2 separate regions of the Homo sapiens genome follow, and region 2 is linked to region 1. The links come from fine-mapping of genetic effects on gene expression. A gene starts in region 1. The other region holds a variant in brackets. All regions are shown on one strand. Distances are between the middles of the regions. Region 1 holds the start of FRMD4A (FERM domain containing 4A). Region 2 overlaps FRMD4A (FERM domain containing 4A).

What was found. PIP is the estimated chance that this variant, and not a neighbour inherited with it, causes the effect.
Region 2: its variant is fine-mapped to the expression of FRMD4A in whole blood (TOPMed, PIP above 0.99).

What each region holds. Positions count from the first base shown.
Region 1 is chr10:14,329,388-14,332,195 of GRCh38, reverse strand. FRMD4A (FERM domain containing 4A) reads left to right here and starts at 1,272. Exons shown (of 25, transcript NM_018027.5): 1 at 1,272-1,599; 2 at 2,013-2,138. The coding sequence starts at 2,094.
Region 2 is chr10:13,704,277-13,707,084 of GRCh38, reverse strand. It overlaps FRMD4A (FERM domain containing 4A), which reads left to right. Exons shown (of 25, transcript NM_018027.5): 13 at 1-48. Among named protein-coding and RNA genes, the nearest start is that of PRPF18, 120 kb to the right of the region's middle. The variant C/T (reference allele first, on the strand shown) is at 1,185.

The DNA.
Region 1 (2,808 bases):
AGGCTGGAGTGCAGTGGTGCGATCTCACCACAGTGCAACCTCTACCTCCCAGGTTCAAACGATTCTCCTGTCTCAGTATCCCAAGTATCTAGGAACACGGGTGCCCACCGCACCCGGCTAATTTTTGTGTTTTTCATAGAACAGGGTTTTGCCATGTTGACCAGGCTGGTCTTGAACTCTTGACCAGGCTGGTCTTGAACTCTTGACCATAGGTGATCTGCCCACGTCAGCCTCCCAAAGTACTGGGGCTACAGGCGTGAGCCATTGCACCCAGCCTTCACTCATTTATTGAATATATTTTAGTACTTACTCTGTGCTAAGCACTGTGATGAGCAAATACTTTTTATTTTTAAATTTTTTTAGAGACAGAGTCTTGCTCTGTCCCCCAGGCTGGATTGCAGGAGTGCAGTCATAGCTCCCTTCAGCCTTAAACTCCTGGACTGAACTGATCCTCCCACCTCAGCCTCCCAAGTAGCTGAGACTCTAGGCACACACTACCATGCTTGGCTAATTCTTTTATTTCTATTTTTCTTTTTTTTTTTTTTTTTTGTAGAGATGAAGTCTTGCTATGTTGCCTAGGCTCACCCTGAATTTTGGGTCTCAAGCTATCTTCCTGCCTCAACCCCCAGAAGTGCTGGGAATGCAGGTGTGAGCTCCCATACCTGGCCCAAATCAATAGTTTTAAAAGTATAAGTAATAAAGGAACAGTAGCTATGCTCGTGCACAGGAACATGAAAGGTCATTAATTTCTTCCCCCTAGTTTCTTATTTCGAAAACTGTTCTCTATGTTTCTACATTTCACACTGTCTAGTTAATTTTCAGGATTTTTTGGAGCCATTACAGGAGGTGAGTAAAGGAAGAAATCAGAAAAGGACATACTAGAAGTATCAGGAATAACCATTTTTAGTTGAATACATGGACTCCAGAAGAAGATACAAGCTTGACAGTGCTCATGAAAAGATATCTAATTTTCTTAAGTCTTTGACTCTGGAAAGCCCTTTGAGCTACCCATTATATAACAAGATTCGGCAGGTTTTTTCTTTCTCCCTTCATTGACATCTTCCGGGGAAAATGCTGCATGATATGATTTTCAAGGCTAACTTGCCTTTTCCTGTTAAGCAGTGTCCCTTGTGACAAATTCACCTCCTATGCCTCCCTGAACTAGGGAGGCTCCTTCAAAATTCCTAACAGGCAGCCCTGTGGAGAGATGGGAGGGAAGGGATGGGAGGGAGGAAGGGCGGGAGGAAGGGAGGGAGAGAGAGGTAGAGTGTGTCTGTATGCGGCGTACATGTGGTACAGCCAGGGAGATCAGAACGCTCACAGAACAGGCAGTGCAATTCCATGTTCCTCTTAAGTATGTTAGCCCTACCGGGAGCTGAGCTGGCCAGTCTACTTGGAGAGGAAAAGTAGATCTGGGGAAGGTGGAAGGGTCAGTTCCTAAGTGACTTCCTCCTCGGGGATGGTAAGGGCATTTGCTGATCTCCAGTGACTGCCTGGTGCCTCATGGTCAGACTCGGCTGTCTCACTCCCAGATATCTGATTTTGCAAAAAGGGACACACCTATCTGCAGCAAAGAAGACACTGACCAGATTGCGAGCGGTATGTTGTGACATTCAGCATGTTTATGCAGCAGAATTGCTGAGAGATGCAGAGAGAGGGGGTGGCTCGGGCTGCTTGATTTATCTGCAATAGGGAATGTTTTATTTTAATTGTCAGTTAAAGGAAGAATTGCTGCCAGGGCGAAGGTAGCAGTTAAACATTCCGTGTTCTAAGCTTTCACGTTTGTGTTTGATGCGGTCTCCCTGTCTGTGCCGCTTTGCGAAGCTAGGGAGGGCTCACTTTTAAATAACCTGCAGCTTCCTATTTTCCTTCTTCTTTTTTTTTTTTTCCTCCCTAAGCACAGTTCCCACCCTGTCTTCCCTGACCTCCTCCCCACCCTGTGTGAAAGGTGGCCTATCTTCCCCTTGAGCCTTTTGCTCCCTAAGTCTGGATTTTGGCTGCTTTTTCTGCAGGTGCTTTTGGATGCTCTGTAGCCACCCGGGGCCCAGGAGGACTGACTCGGCAGCAGGATTCGTGCATGGGAATCGGAGACCATGGCAGTGCAGCTGGTGCCCGACTCAGCTCTCGGCCTGCTGATGGTGAGTGTTCAGACAGGAGGTGGGGCCCGGGCAGCGTCCACTCCAGCCTCCCCTGCACCGTGGGCTGCTGCTGCCGCTGCAGTGGCTGCAGACATGTTCAACATTGCTCCGCTTTATCCCGCAGGCTCTTTGGAAATGCTTTCTTGGGTCAGAGTATCAGCATGACAAAGCACTTGCAGGGAAAAGAAGCTGTAGATTTGCCATTTCAGAAACTTGTTGCTGAATGCTATTTTGAGAGCTGTGCTTGCAAACAGGTGCTAAGAGCCCCTCGAAATAGATTGCTAGGATGCCTCCTCCAGCTCCCAGCATCCTTTCCCCCTTGTCTTTTGCATCTAAATTGAGCTGATTGTGTTTGTTTTTGGATATCTTCTCAGGGCAACTGTGGAATCTGTTGCCCATGGGGTGACAGAATGGGGTCTTCTTTCTAGGCGCCCATATATCTGCTCATACTTTCCTGTAGAGGTGGTGGAGGAGGTTCACTGTGGCTTCAGTGATGCTTGGGCTACTGAGTTGGGAGCAGCTTGTTTCCTATCTACCATTGATGGCCAACCTTGGCAGGACTTGTCCAGGCATTTATCTGTGTGTGAGCAGCTGACTCACCTTATGCCCCTCTGGAATTTTCACCATATTAAGAAAGCCCTAGCTCTTACCATATTAAAGCACACAAGGA
Region 2 (2,808 bases), 630 kb after region 1:
GTACTTCAGAGAAAAGAAGTTTTCCGTGGAAGTTCATGACCCACGCAGGTAAGCTTGAAAAGTCCTTTTCTTGCGGGATGGCGTGGCTCTCGGCCGGGCGTGTTATGGATATTATTTTGGGGCTGTCGTTGTTCATGGTCAGTTTGGAGCAGGGAGCGAGGGTGGGGGCTCCTGGGGAATGGAGCTCAAATCAGACAGTGAAACTTTCTTTTCAATTACATGTGTTGATAAATGCAGTGGGTTCGCACGTGTGTGTAAGTAGCAATCCCCTGACTGTCTCATCTGGCCACATGTGTCCCTGGCTCGTGTGTGTGTGTGTGTGTGTGTGTGTGTGTCAGTGTATGTGTTTGTCTTACCTGCCGGGGCACTGGAAGGAAGCTTTATAGCACTTTGTAACACACACCAGTAAGTCCCCATAGGAAACTTTTGCTATAGAAGAGTCTGAAGAATCCCTCATTAGAGCTTCTAAAAGTATTTCAGGCAGGACGGTCAATGCGAAAATGAATTTGTCACCAAAGCAGTTGTGCTACGTTGTTTTATTCCAGGAGCTGTAATTTTAGGATGTTAGTATTGTGGGTGGATGTGAAAGAAATGAAATTATTTTTCCCTCCACCCAAAATCGTACCCCAGAGAGCACCAGGGTTGTAAAAAGTCCCTGTACTCTTAAGTCAGATGCAAGACAGTGGGGCCCCAGGTTGGAATGCAGGGAGCCCCAGGTGGCTGGGGTCTGGGCAGCTCATACCCACTGTTTTCCTCTCTTTGTCTGCCGCTGGACCTAAAGTTATATGCATCCCCAAAAACAGCAGCGTAATTCCCTAAAACCAGGCCTGACAACTAAGAAATCACTTTCCATAAGGTCAGAGACATTTACAATAAGAAGGTAGCCCCAGGGAGACAGAAAAAAGATCAGACTCTACAGAGGAGCAAAAGTGGGTTTTAGGCGCTGTTGACGCTCCAGCCCTGGGCTTAGAAGGAGGACTTGGCACCAATTCCAGCTCACACATGGCTTCTGATGCTCAAAACAAGCTGCAGTCCCTCCCCATGAGCTCTGGACAGGAGGGAGATTTGGAGTTACCCCGCCCAGTGAGAGGGCTTGGACCTGTGCAGTAGCCCCTGTTCCTGCAGCCCATGATAACCCGGTAGGAATGAAGCCGTGCTTGCCCTCCAGGGTAATCTGCCTGAAA[C/T]AGCCACTCCTGTGTAGGGCAAGAGCTTATCTCAGCACCACGGTTACTACAGGAATAGTTAGTGGAGAGCAGCTGAGAGTTTCTGCATCTCCACAGTCAGGTGAAAATGGTAGCCTTTAACAGAAAAATATTTTATCCGGTGTTTCTCAGGGCCCTGCAAGGGGTTTCGCGGCCAGAAGCCCCACTCCATGGAGCACAGATCCATCTGTGCAGGCCAAGTGGGGTGGGCGGGGAGATTTCAAAAATAAGATTCCAGCCAAGAAGAAACTCACTGTTCATTTTCCAGGTGAACTGAATTGGACCAGGTTCTTAGGCATGTAAGAGAGGGGAAATTTAAGTACAGAAAGAGTGAAATGAACTTTGCCACAATGGGTCAGATGCAGAAAGGGGATGCTCCATAGGATAAAAATGAGGGGCTGGGTAATCTAAGGGGCTGAGCGCAGGGAATAGACCCTCCGCCATGCCTGTGCTCTGCTGGGAATTCAGTGAACACCCAGGCACCTTGGACAAATCCTTTAACCACGCACGCATATATCTGCACATGTGTGTTCGTGTTCTCTGTGCGTCTGTCGCCCTATTGGTGAGTACTGCTAAACTCTCTTTACCAAAGCCCAGGGATATAGGAAAGAATCTAGATCTCACACGTGACTATTCAGTGGGCCTGTCGCCTATTAGACAGCAGTGATCAATGTCATGTTTCTTGCGAAGCTTCTGTGTCCTTGTCGGGTGCTGTGGCGGGGAAGGAAGGAAGTCGGAGGCAGGGTCTTCTTCCTTAAAGATCTTCTAGTGTAACTGAGAAGACAGGCAGAAGAAGGAACTTTTATTTTGAGACACGGTCTCATTCTGTCGCCCATGCTGGAATGCAGTGGTGCAATCATAGCTCACTGCAGCCTCCACCTTCCAGGCTCAAGCAATTCTCCCACCTCAGCCTCAGCCTCCCGAGTAGCTGGGACTATAGGTACACACCACCGTACCCAGCTTTTTTTTTTTTTTGGAGAGACTGGGTCTCACAGTGTTGCCCAGGCTGGTCTCAAATTCCCAAGCTCAAGCAATCCTCCCATCTTGGCCTCTCAAAGTGCTGGGATTACAGGCGTGAGCCACTGCCTGGAACCTGGCTGAGAAGAAGGAACTCATGGAGTGTCACAAGAAACAAAGAAACCTGCTCTAGACGACAAGTAGCTAGTATACAGGAGAGGCAGGATTTGAACCTAGGAGGTCTGGCTCCAGAGCTCATGCCCTTTATCTCTATACTGTACAGAAGGGCCAGACGTCGTGGGCCATGAAGGGTGAAGGACAGGGTCACCAGAGGCCTGGCTGGTCAGGAAGGGAGAGGCTTACCAGGAAGGAGAGGTCTGAGTTGGACCTGGAGGGGTAACTAGGATTAAAGCCACGTGGTAGGGCCTCAGGGGGATATAGATGTCAGGTGGGGGCTTCTCAATTAGGATAAACAAATGAGGGAGGGTCTGGCTGGAGGGAAGTGGGAGTTGGAGGAGCCCAGAGGAAGAAGCAGAGCTGTCTCGTCCCAGGCAAACTCGCTCTGAGTACACTGAGTTAGCCTGCAGACAGGCAGGAATGGGGGAGAGGCCCAGGGAGGCCAGAGGTGGAGACCCGGGATGACTTCAGC